2 separate regions of the Homo sapiens genome follow, and region 1 is linked to region 2. The links come from fine-mapping of genetic effects on gene expression. Tissue or cell type: ovary. Region 2 holds a variant in brackets; the other region holds the start of a gene. All regions are shown on one strand. Distances are between the middles of the regions.

Region 1 (8,183 bases), 630 kb before region 2:
GTTGGGATCCCCAAGTCGGTTGGGGGTGGCAGAAAGGCCACAATGCAGAGGTGCTGACAGTATGGAGGGGCATGTGGGGGGAGAGGCAATGGCCCCAGGGTCTGGCTAGCATTGGAGTAGAGGGCTGTGGATTGAACTCAGTTCACAGATACTCTGAGCAAGCTCGTGACATGCAGATCCCTGGGCTCCACCACCAAGAGATCCGGATACAGCAGGCCTGGGCAGGGCCTGGGAATCTGCATTTCTATCAGGCTTCCAGGCGAGGCCGATGCTGATACATTCCATAGGGTGCACTTGGACACGTGCCCATCTGGTCCAACATGCTCATCGTCTAGCGTGGAAAAAAGAATGCAGAGAGCTTAAGCGAACAGAACAGAACCCACTTCCTGGGGAGCCAAGTCAGGACCCCCTGCCTCCGTCACCCTGCCCACCCCAAAACATCCCCCTTGTGGCCAGACTGTGATATTCAGGATTTGTTCACATTTTGTATATAAGAGAACAGACGAACTTCAGCCTCACCCATTGCTCTTTCCCTCTGGATGAATATTCCTGGATAAACCTCCGGGCATGCTGTCTTGGGTACACTTGCCATTGCCATGCCGTCCCTCTAGTTAGTCCCTCTAGGTCAGGGGTCTCAGGGCCAGGGGAGAGGCTGGGCAGCTCTTCAATTCAGCCCAATCAGAACGACATGAGTCTGAAGGGAGAAGGGAAATGCTCTGAAAAATTACATTGAAGGGATTCATAGGAACTGCCTTAGATCTTGTTTTTCAACTCCATCTCTTCCTTTACAAACAAAATCTGGATCATGGGTTTAAAGGGGCTTTGAGATCCTTGAATGAAAGGAACTAGGTCAAAGCTTGCTCTGAGTATGTGGTTTTCTGCTTTAAAAACTTGGGAAACTGATTGGTTACAGAATATAGTCCAAAGCTCTGGACACAGCATGCAGGGTTCATGATGAGTTTCTTTTCCATCTAGTCCCTGTCACCCCCAGCATAATCTACCCAGATCATATTTTCAGCTTTACATGAAGTAACTTGGGATTTTTCTGTTCTCTGAGTATCTTCCATTGTTTCCCTTCCCTGGGATGCTCCTCTGCCCAACACTAGAGAGCACTGGTGGCCATTCCTAAAAACGCACCGGAAAATGTCCAAGTTTCCTGCTCCCCTTTAAAAACGTTTGAGCTGTCCACCAATGGATGAGTGGATAAACAAAATGTGGTCCGTCCAAACAGCAGAGTAAGATCCAGCCGTAAGGAGGACGGAAGCTCTGACGGGCTACGACGTAGGTGAGCCTTGAGAATACGGCGCTGAGTGAAAGAAGCCAGACACAAACGGCCACCTAGTGTATGACCCCGTTTCTATGAAATGAACAGGAAAGGAGACAGAAAGCAGATTCGTGGTTGCCAGGGTAGTGGGGGGAAGAGGGAGATGGAGAGTGACGGTTTTATTTTGGGATGATGAAAATGTTTTGGAACTAGAGGTGGGGGGTTGCGTAACATTATGAACGCATTAAATATCATGGAATTGTTCACTGTAAAATAGTTAATGTAGTGTTATGTGAATTTCACCTCAATTAAAAAAACAACAACAACAACAACCAAAGCCATCATGTGAGGCCCAGCAAATCTGAGCCCTCATTCTCTCCTGGTAACTGGCTAGGACTAAGCAGCCACTGGCCCTTCAGGTCAGCATCCACGTTCCCAATTGTCACACTCCCTGCTTCCCTTGTTGGGCCATCAGCGGGAGGGCAGAGTGTGTTTTATTCACATCAATGGGAGGACAGAGTGTGTTTTACTCACAGCACTTAACAGGGTGCGTTCGGCAGTCCAGATGCTCACATTTCCTTGCTCGCCAACTTCTAGAACCCGGTCTGTCCCTTCTGCAGCATCATCCCCTACGACTCCCCTGCCTGTGCCTGGCGTTGCTCCCGTGCTGGATGACTTGCAGTTTTCTAAACACCTCACATGTGCTCAGACCAACGTGCTCCGCCATGCCGATCCTCCTGTTCCCTGCAAACCCAAATCAGCCTTCAGGGCTTCAGCAGCGTTGAGTCACGAAGCATCCCTCAGCAACCTCCCGCTGAGCACCCACAGGATTGGTGGCACTCTGCTCACCTTCCCTGGTGGGTACACCCCTCTAGAGGCGGCTCCCGGAAAAAGAATCTGTAACTATTCATTTTTTAACTTCCAGAGTCAGGCACGAAGTTATACCTAGCAACGGATCCCAGAAGGGGTCCTGGTGGTGCTGTCAACATGGAAATTTTAAAGGTCACATTTTTTTTTCCTTGAATTTCTTTTCAAATTTTCGTTGAGTTTTCCTTTTCAAATTTTAGGTGAGCTTCTTGCGACATGATGTTTACACTCTCAGAAGAATGAGGGGTTTTGCCTCTGTCTTGCTATATCACAACTTATGTCTTTAGAAACTATTTCATACTTCACACACCAAGACACTCCAGCGATGTTCTTTAGCAGAGGCAAGTAAGGAGTTTAGCATATAGAGAAAATAAAGCAGAGGGAAAAGTGTTACTTCTATAGTGTAAGGTGCATTCACGGTATTTTTCTCCCGAGTTGAGGCTGTAAACATCTATTTCTTGTTTTATGGCTCCATCTGCTGGCAGGTCTCAGAATGTCTTTCTCATCAACACCTTAAATCCTTGGAAAAGTTATGTTCACATTGTATTCCAAAAGGCACCATTTAGTTTTTACAAAGCGAAAGCCTTTGGAAAGCTATTTTTCTTTCAAACTACTGGCTTCCAACGCCTTTTGGCCTCGCCCCAAATTTATTAGCCTTCTCTGAGCATAAGAATAACTTGATGTTACTTCTTGAAATTCCTTGCACCCGTCCCAGACCTCCTGGAATCAGCGTGATCTGGGAGTCTGTATTATTTGGAAGTTCCCTCAGTGGATGCTTACACTCAGGCTAGTGTGGGAAACGCTGACATCTAACCTGCCCCTTTCATGGCACAGATGAGACGTAGGATTTGGGAAGGTGGCTTGGGGAGCCTTCAGCCCTCTCCAGCCCCCGATTCCCAGGCATGCGCTTTTAAGTATGAATAATAAGCAATATGTAGGCCGGGCTCTGTGGCTTATGCCTGTAATCCCTGCACATTGGGAGGCCAAGATGGGTGGATCACTTGAGCCCAGAAGTTTGAGACCGGCCTGGGCAACATGATGAAACCCTCTTTCTACAAGAAATACAAAAAAATTAGCTGGGTGTATTTCTCGTATTTCTACAAGAAATACAAAAAAATTACTACAGGTGGCACACACCTGTAGTACCAGCTACAGGGGAGGCTGAGGCAGGAGGATCACCTGAGCCCAGGAGGTCGAGGCTGCAGGGAGCCATGATCCCACCATTGCACTCCAGCCTGACAGAGCCAGACCCTGTCTCAAAACAAAACAAAGAACACAAAATTATGTGGGCATGGTGGTGGGTGCCTGTAGTCGCAGCTACTCAGGAGGCTGGGAGACGGAGGTTGCAGTGAGCCAAGATCCTGCCACTGCACTCCAGCCTGGGCGACAGAGTGAGACTCCGTCTCACAAAAAAAAAAAAGGAAAAGCACTATGTTTACCGTATAAATGCAGTTTTAAAACCTGTCTGCAGAGGCGACCCTATTTCTACTACCTCCTACAATCATGTTTATAGTTATGGAACATAACAGGTCAGGCAGTTAGTGAGCCTCAGTCCCACTTCCACCTTGACAAATAAACCTGTTCTATCTTACAATATTTCCGGTTGTTTTGTGGCTGTTGACTTTGCCTCCATGAGGAAATTAACTCCTATGGAGGGCACCTAGCTCGGCGTAGACCCGGTCGCTACCACCTGCGATGCCTTGGAAATGCAGCCGGCGGGGCCCACCTGTGGAGCCTGCAGACCGGAATCTCTGGTCTGTGTCCTAACCAGCCCTGCAGGTGATCCCCCGCAGGTGAAGGCTGAGAACCCCTGCGGTCCACGTTGGCATGCACCCAAGGCACAAGTCATTGAAAGCTAAATTTCCAGGTAACGGCCTCCTGGCACCTTAGACTTGCATTGCAGTTTTATTTTCTTTGGGGTCAAAGTTCAAATCTCTGTGTGCTGAGTGAAAGAGCTTCCGACGTTAAAGGCCAGACCAAGATCGAGTCCACTGCTACAGTAGGGCGCTCGGTGCCCACGTGGGCACCATTTCGAAGTCTATGGAGGGTCTACTTCGTGCGCCGCCGCCCAGTTCCACGAGCTAGTAGGGAACTGGCCCGACCCCGTGTCCGCCTGCAGGGGGCTGGCACTGGGGGAACTGCAGGAGTCAAGCCAGGGAAGGCCGGGGGTCTGGGCGAAGCAGAAGAGGAACAGGGCGGGGCCTGGGTGGGGCTGGCCGGGGCCTGTGGGGAGGGGGCAGGGCACGTGTTGGGTGTCTGGGCGGGGCCAGGCGGGGTCTTGGGGGGACAGGGGCGGAGCCTGTGGGGCGGGGGCGGGGCCTGTGGGGGCCTGGGCGTGGCGTCTAGGCAGGGCCAGGCGGGGTCTTGGCGGGATGGGGGCGGGGCCTATGGGGAGGGGCCAGGGCATGTGCGGGGTGTCTGTCCGGGGCCAGGCGGTGTCTTGGGGGGCCAGGGGCAGGGCCTGTGGGGCGGGGCGGGCCTGGCTTGTTGGGCCTGTGCCGGGTGTCCGGGAGGGGCCAGACGGGGTCTTGGAGGGGCGGGGCCGGGGCCTGTGGGGCGGGGCTCCTCTGGTCCCGCCCCGGCCACATCAGAAACCGCCGTTTGCGGGGCAGCCAATGAGGGCGTGGCGCGCGCCGCTTTCCGCCGTTACTGGGCGTATGGCGTACAGACACGAGGCCGGCGCCCGGGAGGCGGTGTTCATCCGCCCGGGAAAAGAGCGCCTGTTGCTCGCTGCCCGCGTGTCCCTGGCTCTCTCGGGAACCCAGCGCCGAAGGCGAGGTGGGCGCGGGCCGAAGGAGGTCCTGGGAGGTCGGCGGCGCGGAGGGATCTCCGCGGGAGCCGTTGGGGCTGTTGGCCTCGGGCTGAGGTGCAAGGACCAGGACTAGGGCGAGGGCAGCGGTCCAAGGTGCGGGGCCAGGCTGAGGTGCTAGGTGTGCGGGGGCCGGGATGCGGGGGCGGCGGCTGGGGGTCCGGGATGTGGAGGTGAGGCTCGAGGTGCGGGGACCGGGTTGCGGGGGCGAGGTCCCAGGTGCGGGGGATGCAGGAGCCGGGTGCGGGGTCGAGGTCCCAGGTGCGGGAGATGCAGGAGCCGGGTGCGGGGGCGAGGTCCCAGGTGTGGGAGATGCAGGAGCCGGGTGCGGGGGCGAGGTCCCAGGTGCAAGGGATGCAGGAGCCGGGTGCGGGGGCGAGGTCCCAGGTGCGGGAGATGCAGGAGCCGGGTGCGGGGGCGAGGTCCCAGGTGTGGGAGATGCAGGAGCCGGGTGCGGGGGCGAGGTCCCAGGTGCGGGAGATGCAGAAGCCGGGTGCGGGGGCGAGGTCCCAGGTGTGGGAGATGCAGGAGCCGGGTGCGGGGGCGAGGTCCCAGGTGCGGGGGATGCAGGAGCCGGGTGCGGGGGCGAGGTCCCAGGTGTGGGAGATGCAGGAGCCGGGTGCGGGGGCGAGGTCCCAGGTGCGGGGGATGCAGGAGCCGGGTGCGGGGGCGAGGTCCCAGGTTTGGGAGATGCAGGAGCCTGGGGTGCAGGGGCCGGGGTGCGGGGGCGATGTATCAGGTGTGGGGGGTGCGGGGCCGGGGGGAAGCGCTGAGGCCCGACTTGCCGGGGCTGTAGGGCCGGGGTGCGGGGGTGCAGGGGCCGGGGTGCGGGGGCGAGGTCCCAGGTGCAGGGGCCGGGGTGAGAGGCTGAGGCCTGAGTTGCCGGGGGTGCGGGGGCGGAGGTCTCCGCATTGGCGGCCGTGCGTGAGACTGCGGGGACCTGAGAGCTCTGCAGGAGGGCCTTCGGGACCTCCCGCACTACCCACGCGGCCGCGGGGCGCGATCTCTGCGGAGGGCGAGGGCCCCTTCCCGCGTCCGCCGCCGCTGCGCTGCGCCCCCGGGAGCCTTGGGAGCCGGACGTTGGGAAGAGGACGGAACTCCGGAGGACCCCAAGTGAGGCGGCGACCGCGACGGCCGGGCTCTGCGAGGCCCGGGGGTCCTCGCGGGTGCTGGCGGCCCGGCCCTTGGCACCTGTGGAGGGAAAGGGGCGGCGGGGCGGTGGCGTCCTGGGATGGATGCTCTCGCCGTCTTCAGCCCCGGCGGCCTCCAGGGCAAAGCCGGCTGCACCCCTGCGCAGCCTGTTCTCTGAGCGCTTTTCTTTTCGTTTTTAAGTTGTGGCCAGAGAGACCCCGCTCGCATAGAATGTACCGCTCAACGGTTTTTAGGCGTGTGGCGCGGTGGTGGTTCCCACGTGCACGGCGTGGTCCTGAGCTCAGCGCCGGAGGGACGTTAGGTGGAAGCGTCTTTGGCAGAGCTGGTAGCGAATCGGAGAGGTGATTTCCAGCGAGTGTGGTTATTGGAAGCACACACTTGCTTTCTGACTTTAAGAATTCAATATCCAGACTGAGGTGGTTTTGAAACTGGAAGGAGATAAAGCTGAAAACCAGAGTTGTGCTGGGAAACCTGGACGTAGAGCGCTGAGCCCCCCAGGTATTTAGTGACCAGCACAGCGCGCCGCCGTGGGTTTCAGGCCCTGGAGATGATGAGAATCAGCTGGAGGGCTGCTTCCAGTCGGCTTCTAACTCGGGAGGGCTGAGAGCCGCTCCCCACCCCGTAATTTCTGTTCCCAGCCAGTCCAGATGCTGCCCGTCAGGGACCAGGCTTTGAGAACTGACGTGCTGCTTTAGGAATATTTCCTGCTGGAGATGAGAGTTCAGCTTGTCACTGTTTTTTAATCACTGTTTCACACCGTTGTTTGTAAGGTGTCAAGCGACGGACTGGGTGCAAAGGCATCAATTGTGATTCGCAGCCTAGTTGGAGAAGCTATGGAGTGCAGAGATGTGGGGAGGGAGAAAACAGGTTACCATGTAGTAGGGTGACCGTGGTCACGCCGGGGAAACGGCTTTCGGAGAAGGGAGCAAGGGATGGCCTGCGAGCTGGTCCTTAAGCGGTTCACTGGATTCTTGTGGTTTCAGAGGAGGGTGAGGCTTTGTTAGCAGAGGGTGTGCCACGGTGTAGGGTGAGTCACGGAATTGATAGTGATAGGAAGCAAGTTGTGTTTGCTGGAGTCTCAAGCGGATGCTTTCAGATTGATTTGTAGATCAGCAGTCCCCAGTCTTTTTGGCACCAGGGACCGATTTCCTGGAAGACAATTTTTCCACGGACCGGTGAGGGATGGTTTCGGGATGAAACGGTTCCACCTCGGATTATCAGGCATTAGATTCTCATAAGGAGCAGGCAGCCCAGACCCTTGGCACGCCGACTTCACAGTAGGGTTCTCACTCCTAGGAGAATCTAATGCCTCCACTGATCTAACAGGAGGTGAGCTCAGGCTGTCCTGCTCACTCACTGCGGCTCACTTCCTGCTGTGTGGCCTGGTTCCGGTACAGGTCCATGGGGCGTGGGGGTTGGTGGTGGTGGTTGGGGGAGGGGGGGTGGGGGGAGGGGGGTTGGTGGTGGTGGTGGTGGTGCTGCTGCTGCTGCTGGGGACGCTGCCTGTAGATTATCAGTAAGAGACTTTCATGCGCCAGTATGCCCCGTGTGTAAGCCGAGCATGCATACGTAATCATTGTCATGATGCGCACATTATAAAATAAATACAAAGCAGTTTAAAATGAGATTTAAAATTAGTTGTAATATGCTGGCACCTCAGCGGATTATCCTGTGTAAACTCCTTTGGAAATTGCTGATTTAGAGTCATATTGTAAGGGGTCTTATACAATGAATATTTGCTTTAATCCTGTAAAATACAATAGGAAGTCGGAGGTTTTTAAAATTGAAAAATGGCATTAGATTTATCTTTCTGTGAAGATCATGAAGCCAAGAATTTTAGAAGCTGTTAAAACTCAGAGGATGAAAAAGATAATGTGATTTAAGGCAGAGTGATGGTAGATGATGTCATCGCCTGCCCCTATGTAGAACCTTGGATGGTTTCTCATGTGTTGAGTATCCAAGCTGTCTGCAGGACCCTGAGCAGTCTGCTCCCTGCCCACATGAAATCCTCCACTCCCCTTGCCCCTTCTCTTTCCAGTCCCACTGGACGTCTTTTGGTTCTGCATCCAGTTCAAGCACTTATGTGTGGGT
Region 2 (8,183 bases):
CTCCAGTATAGAGCGAGAGCCTGATCTTCCAAACGCCAGCCTACTTTCCACCACGGCCACACCAAACTGTAGTATTTTGTTAAAGGTTCTCAGAACTATTAAGCATTTCTTGTTTTCTGATTCTGGCACTCAGCACTGTGCCTTATGCATAGGAGACACGCAATAAATATTTGTTGGGCTGGCGCAGTGGCTCATTCCTGGAATCCCAGCACTTTGGGAGCCTGAGCCAGGAGGATCACTTGAGCCCAGGAATTCAAGACCAGCCTGGGCAACATAGTGAGACCCCACCTTTATAAAAAATAAACATTCAGCTGAGCATGGTGGTGCATGCCTCTAGTCCCAGCTACTTGGGAGGCTGAGGTGGGAGGATCACTTGAGTCCAGAAGTTTAAGGCTGCAGTGAACCGTGATCACACCACTGCACTCCAGCCTTGGTGACAGAGTGAGACCCTGTCTCAAAAAATATCTATATATTTATTGACTTGTCTGTGCACAGTCACTGAAGATTTGCTAGTCATCTGGTAAACCGCGTCAATAAAGCTAGCCAACCAGCATGCATTCGGCTCACAGGTGGCTGTTTTGGCTTGTATTACCTGGTTTGCCTGTCTACACTGGCAGAGGTAGCCAGATATTTGCCAGATCTTTACCATGTAGAGAGGTGTTTCATTTTGTAAGTAATTGCCAAACAACTTGAAATCATTTTAAGCCTTTGCATACTCTGTGCTTATCTGTGACCATAGATGGTCATTCTGGAGGCATTATAGAATGTCGTAGTTGAGGGACCGTGGGGACTATTGAGCCACTTCTCACTTTACAGGGAAGCCAGGAGGTAGGTTTGGAGAGGGAAATCCAGGGTCGGCAGAGTCCGGGCCCCTCCCCACATCTGGAAGCTTTTCCAGGGCCTCAGGCGGCCCAATTTCTTGCCTCTGCTCCCCAGGGGACAGCCTTATGAAGCTGTGATGGTTGATTAATCTGAATCCATAAATGGCACTGGCCAATAAATTGCAGGCCATTCTTAAAAAGTTTATAAGCATGCCATTTTATACATGACATTTGTAATGAGGAAAAGAGAACTTAAAACAAACCCAAAGCATGTCATTACCCAGCAGTTTCCTGGTCCTGGGGCACATGGCACAGCTGGCTCCAGCCGTTTCCAGAAGTTTGGGGCGGCTCACTTCACCCGCTCTATTTAGGGGTCTGGGAGGCCAAGCAGATAATTACAGTAATTATCATTCCTTAGATCTCCATCATGCCTTAGAGTTTCTAAAGAACTGTCAGAACTGCTAGGCCATGGCAGAAACTGGATTCTTCATCTTCATAGTATTTATAATAGAATTTTAAAAAAACAATGTTTATATCCGATTGAAGAAATGGAAATTTGGCAAATAGAGATTTTCTAAATACTAGAATTATACAGATAATTATATTCTATGTTTATTGATTTATTTATTTATTTTTGCATTTTATCATTCATTCTACCTGTATAGTTAGTTTTTAAATTGCTAACATTAAAAATTTGGGAGATTTCAAATGCAAAAATCTCTCTCTCACACACACACACACATACACACACACCTCCTGGGCCCCTTGTCTTAGACATGGAGGATACAATGTAAATAGAACATTCAAGGAACAGAGTCTGATATAGGAGACAACACACAAATATACTAACAAAAAAATCCCAAACAATAGTAAATGCCATGAGAAAACCAAATAAGGACCTGAAAGAAAGAGTGGATGGTGGTGGCGACGAAGGGGTGGCATGAGGGGAGGGGTCCTGTGAACTGAGACCTGAATCAGGATGAGCTACACAAAACGTGGGGATCAGCATTCCAGGCAGTGGGAACAGCAGGCAAAGTTATGCAGGAAAAATGAGCTCCATGTGTTGGAGGCCAAGGAGGATGGAGCCACGAAGCCAGCCCGACCATCGGCAGGGGCCGGCATTCCTCTGTGTGATATAGATTCCAGCTGGACCAAGTCAGTGCAACACTGAAGATTATTTCCCTGCAGGAAACCAAGGGATAAAGGTTTCCCTGAACGCACACAAGGAGTAAGTAACAGGGAAGGAAGAAGAATAGGGAAATCTGGAAGAAAAATGGAAAAGGAAAAATTAAAGGTTTTATTAAGTTGTTTTGAGTATTAATACTCTGTCTTTCATCTCTCTCCTATGTCTGTCTCTGACACACGCACACACCAAACTTAATAAAACATTACATATGGATGATAAATTATTTCTGAAGAACTGTGGTGATGTGGGCTGAAAATACCCCTTTTTCTCTCTGCCCTTTCCTCTCTCTCTCTCTCGTTCTTTCTCTTCCTCCCCACCCCTCCTCCATTTTCTCTCTGGCTCTGTCCCCTGCTACTTGTTTTGCAGGCTGGGGTTGTTTTGGAGTCCTCAAATGGGCCATGGTTTTGCTTGGCTGGCTGACCTGCCTAAGAAGACGTTTAGTCTTTAGAAGAGTTTGGTGAAAATCAAGGTGGTTGCAGAGTTAGGTGGTCTCATGCCACCTTCTCAATGGGAAAAATGCCACAGAGTGCCTTTTTCCCGAAAGAATGAGACTTTCTTGCTCTGATGAAACTTGTAGGACTATGAGTTATTTTACTCCTTGAGTTGGAAAAGGAACCTGTGGGCTGAATTCAGCCCATCCCATTAGCACCACACAATGTTTTATTTTAAAAAATTGCTAACATTAAAATTTTGATAGATTTTGCTTTAAAAAAAAATCTGAATTTCTGACTCTGCTTTAAAAAATGAAGACCTGACAATCCTGGGCAAAGCTTCCTGCAGAGCCGCAATGCTTCGTTCGGCATCAGGAGGCACTACTTAATTTAGACAGGGCACAGTTTTCCACGTCGCCTCCGCCTCTCCTGCCCTACGACTGCAGTGGTGCCAGCTGATGGTTTCCAGCATCTGCTCTGATGAGTCTGGCCTGTGCCTTCCAGCTTGTTAACTACCTTGGATGCCATCCCTGGACTCTGTCCAGTCACTTCTCAGGACTCGCCGTCCCCTGCGGGTGTCACAGCTTGCAGCCCCTTCATTGCTTGTTTCCAGTCAGTGTTGCTAGTTGCAAAACATCTGTGGCAACTGAGGTGTTTTACACTTGTCTGAAGTGCAGTGGTGTGGAGAGAAGGCAGTGTTCTGGCCTCAACCCTGCTCTTCTCATCACTGGCCACCTATGAACTCTGGCTGGCTTTGGGGTGAACGAGACACCATCACTTTACTCTGTCAGCCTTTCTGCCAGGACTGATTGTGGCCATTTGTAAATGGAAAGAATGGGAAGGGCTTTATCGTCCACAGGGTTTATTTTATAAAGATGAGGATTCTGAAGACACATCTGTTCTTTGTATAACAGATGTTATTTCCTTTTACAATTTTTTTTCCCAGATGACTTGAATAACAAGTCAATGAGGTTTTGTCCTCTTCAAAATGAATATCCTAGACTTTAGGGGGAAAAAAAGCACAGTGGGAATGAAAATGAATCTTTTTGATTTTTGCATTTCAGATTCTTC[A/G]TATTGCATTACAATAGTAGAACTATCCCCACTGGAAATCAACTGAAGTCAGGCCTTACTTTCTAATGTGCTACTTTATCTAGATAGGGCTATTTTATTTAGAGAGTAACAAGACACTTAAGTTATTGTTTAGATACTTCTCTTTAGCTCATATTACAGAGTTAACTTTGTTCCTGGCTTACATTTTGAGCTTGTGTACATAAAACTGGAGGGACAGATGCAAATTGAAAAGTGGAACCAAGGAACAGGACACGTGTGGATGTTGGGCGCCCTGTGAACAAAAATTCAGATATTACATGGGGTGCGTCAGTTATCTGAAAATGATGGTATGTTCATAACTACCTATGGCACTTCAATTGTGAAAGCAAGCCTTAAAATATTTCTAAAGGAATACAGATTGAAAAATTCAAATAGAGGCCTGGCGCGGTGGCTCACGCCTGTAATCCCAGCACTTTGGGAGGCCGAGGCGGGCGGATCACGAAGTCAGGAGATCGAAACCATGCTGGCTAACACAGTGAAACCCCATCTCTACTACAAATACAAAAAATTAGCCAGGCGTGGTGGCGGGCGCCTGTAGTCCCAGCTACTTGGGAAGCTGAGGCAGGAGAATGGCGTGAACCCGGGAGGCGGAGCTTGCAGTGAGCCGAGATCGCGCCACTGCACTCCAGCCTGGGCGACAGAGCCAGACTCCGTCTCAAAAAAAAAAAAAAAAAAAAAAAGAAAGAAAAATTCAAATTCAAATAGAACAGAAAGATAATGCAATGTAAATCTTCTTCTTACATCTCGCACTCAGCTTTTCGATTTCTTCACTCCCAAAACAGCAGTATTGGTTTCTGCAGTATCTCTCCAGACATCTCTCTCTCTTCTTCTCTCTCCATCCCTGCCCTGAACCAACTATATTTTACACAAATAGCTCATAGTGTACACATTTTTATCATCTTTTTAAAAATTAGACAATATCAATGAAAGAATATGCCATCTAAGTTCATTTATGAACCTTAGTATTCGTCCCAGCTGTATTCCAGTCCAGAGTGTAGATGTGCCATATTTATTTAGCCAGCGCTCTGTAGATGAGCATTTAGGCTGTTCTCAGGTTTCTGATACTATTAAAAAATTCTACAACAAACAAGCCTTGCACAGAGGTCTTTGATCATATGTATGAGTGTATCTCTAGAATAAATTCCTAGAGGTGGAATTACTAGATCAAAGGGAATGTACACTTAAAATTGGGATAGATACTGCCAAATTACCCTTCAGAAGGGGTGTACTGATTTGAACTCCCATCAGAAATGTGGTGGAAGTTGCCAGCTTAGTATAGCTAACTTTTTGCTTGCCAGTCTGATGGGTGAACTCTGATAGGCTCATTGTTGTTTAATATACTTTTTAAACTTATGAGCAAGGTTGGGCATCACTTGATATATTTATACGTAATTTTTATTTCTTTTTCATTGAACTATTTGATTATCTCCTTTGCCTCAATATTCGGTTGGTTCTTTTTAATAGTAGGAGTTGTACTAATATAATACGTTTAATACCTCTAAAAAGAAATCAGTACCCTTCTGTAATATGTATTATATAATACATATTATATAATATGCACAGAAAACTTTGTTTTCTGATTGTGTTTTGTTTTATTTTATTACATGTAAATTTTGATCTATCTGGAAATTGTTCTGGTATAAAGAGTGAGGTTGGGATCTTAATTTTTTCCATGTGGTGAACTGGTTCCAATGTCTTTGTTGAATAATATTTCTCCTCTAATTTAAAAGACCAGCTTTGGGGCCAGGCGCGTTGGCTCACGCCTGTAATCCCAGCATTTTGGGAGGCTGAGGCAGGTGGATCACCTGAGGTCAGGAGTTCGAGACTAGCCCGGCCAACATGGTGAAACCCCGTCTCTACTAAAAATACAAAAATTGCCGGGCATGGTGGTCGGTGCCTGTAATCCCAGCTACTTGGGAGGCTGAGGCAGGAGAATTGCTTGAACCCAGGAGGCGGAGGTTGCAGTGAGCCGAGATCGCGCCATTGCACTCCAGCCTGGGCAACAACAGCGAAGCTCTATCTCAAAAAATAAATAAGTAAATAAAAAATAAAAGACCCTCTTTATCACAAACTGAATTTCCATATGTACTTAGGCATCTTTGTGGATTTTTCTCCCGCTGAACTGTCTATCCGCGTGTAACAATCAGCCATCTTTATTGTAGTTTCATGCTGTGCCTTATCATTGAGTGTGAATCTCCTCTCTTTATCCTCTTCTGTTTCTTCTCCAGATTTTCTTTCTTATTTTTTATATAAACTCCATAATCAGATATGTCCCCCACAAAATTCTCTCAGCATTTTTACAACAAATTTTCTAATACTCATAGATTAAAGTATAGTTTACGACATTGAGTCGGCTTTTCCAAGAATAGGTTGAATCCTTCATGCATTCGAGGGTGCTTTCACATCCCTCAGAATTATTATTTTTTATTTTCTTCATGAAAATCTTGTACAATTCTTATTCTTGTTTTCATAAATATTTTCTTTTTGTTGGCTGCACTTAGGAGAACTCTTCTTTTTTTGTAGCATTATTGTTGGAATACAGAAAAGCAATTGACATTTGTATATTAAATTTGTACAAGCCTCCTTGCTAAATTCTTTTGTTGTTTGTAATAGTGTTTCACTGACGAAATTCTTTTCTTATTTGTAATCGTTTTCCACTTTGGTTATCAGGCATACATCATTTGAAAATAATGATCTTATTATCTCCTCTTTAAAAAGTATTTTTTTTAAAAAAACAAGGACTAACATAGAGACTATTAGTCTGTCCTTTTCTATGATCTAGCAGTCGCTTGGGGCAGTTGATTATTGTTTAGTCATCTGAACCATTATTTCCACTTCTGTGAATGAATCCCAGAGGACTAATCCCCGAGAAGACTAAAATTGTATGCATAAAGCCACTCATGTCAGCGCCACCTGTACGAATAAGGATGGAAGCTATTGATTGTTCATTAACAGAAGAATGGCATAACATGTTATGGGGCAGCCACTCAAGAGACTGTTACCCAAACTCAATTATGAGGGTTAGATAGAAACAAAGAAATAATTCATATAGCATTCAATGAGAAGAGCAGAATAGAAAATAACATACCTGCATAAAGTTATGTTTACTCAAAGTATAAGGATCACGAAGGAAATTTCAAACTGAGTAATGCTTAGTGTGGAGGAAGCATAGAGGGAAAATAGAATGACCAGGATTAAATTGAGAAAGTGAGTATTGCGTCTACAATGAGCTGGCAGTGTGATTTTGTGCAAGACTTTCATTTCCTGTCTTTACAAATAGGCTAAGAATTCAATTTTCTTATAGATTATTGTTAGCATGAAGTGAGGAAGTGCTTGTTAAGGACCTCAGTGTCTGGCATACCATTCATGTTAGTTTTCTCCTCTTTTAAAATGATTTTACCCTTATTTGTTTCTATAGTGTGATTGCATTGATATTAACTCTAAAATAATGGTAAATAACAGCGGGATATGGAACATTCTTATCTTTTCCTGACATGAATGGGCAAGCTTCTAGTGTGTCACCAGTAAATGCAGTGGCTTCTGTTTTCATGCAACAAGAGGCATCTATTCCTATTTACCCTGTTTTGTCCAGTTAAGGAACTATTTACCAACTTCTAATTTAAGAGTTTCTTTTTCTAACCAAGAGTGTGTGTTGAATTTTATTAAATATGCTTTCAGTATCTCCCACAGACATGGGATCCTTTTACTCTTCCCCCATAATGTGTGTGCTAAGCGGTTCTTACCCTCTGGTTCTTTCCTCTCTAATGATGATTTAAAATTTTTATTCTTTTTTCCCCAAGGATTTCAGGTGTTGGCGTCTGCTTCCCATTACTGGCCACTGGAGAATGTGGATGGGATCCATGAACTTCAGGATACAACTGGAGGTAGAGACGCGGGTGCTGAGAGCGGCTGTGGGCGCGGGAATCCCAGGGCCATCAGGAGGCGTGGGTGCTGAGAGTGGCTGGCCTTGAAATCCCAGGGCCATTGGGGGACGTGGGTGCTGAGAGTGACTGTGGGCCGGGGAATCCCAGGGCCATCGGGGAGCAGATGTGGACACAATCTGCTTTGAAGCCACGGTGATAGAGATGAACAAATACTTGTGTAACTTCCCGTAATAGTTATTTCAAAGCTTTTTTTTTTGTAGAGATGGGGTCTTGCTATGTTGCCAGGCTGGTCTCAAGCTCCTGGCCTCAGCAATCCTCTGGCCTTGGCCTCCCAAAGTGCTGGAATTACAGGCGTGAGCCACTGTGCCAGGCCACGAAGCATTTTACTAGAATTTTTATAGAGAGAGCTATTGCGTATTGAATGGGAGAATTTCTGATTCAAAATATGATTAAAATGTGCATTTTCCCCAACAATCTTGAAACAGAAGCTGGCCTGAGGATGCCTCTATGTGCAAGTCAGGCGTCTGTTTTCTACGTTGAATGGACTAGCGTCATCTGCACACTGACCACAGCAGGGGCCTATTGATGAAGCAGATGTCAAAGGTCATGCCAACTAAGACCAACTCACATGTTTGAAGGGCCCCCGTTTCATTCAGCAAACGCATCCCCATCTACCAGTCAGCTTCCCCACACATCAGCTCCATTTGAAAAGATTAAGCATCGCCTAAGACGTTTCCAGTGAGGCCCAATT

The links. PIP is the estimated chance that this variant, and not a neighbour inherited with it, causes the effect.
Region 1: it holds the start of PIWIL1, and the variant in region 2 is the best candidate, but not a certain one, in a credible set for the expression of PIWIL1 in ovary (GTEx, PIP 0.59).

Annotation. Positions count from the first base shown.
Region 1 is chr12:130,333,111-130,341,293 of GRCh38, forward strand. PIWIL1 (piwi like RNA-mediated gene silencing 1) reads left to right here and starts at 4,777. Exons shown (of 21, transcript NM_004764.5): 1 at 4,777-5,036. LOC101927786 (a long non-coding RNA gene) reads right to left here and starts at 3,130. Exons shown (of 3, transcript XR_242978.5): 1 at 1,799-3,130; 2 at 520-694; 3 at 1-331. RefSeq lists an enhancer at 1,901-2,070.
Region 2 is chr12:130,959,115-130,967,297 of GRCh38, forward strand. ADGRD1 (adhesion G protein-coupled receptor D1) reads left to right here. Exons shown (of 25, transcript NM_198827.5): 3 at 7,349-7,432. Among named protein-coding and RNA genes, the nearest start is that of ADGRD1, 9.3 kb to the left of the region's middle. The variant A/G (reference allele first, on the strand shown) is at 3,510.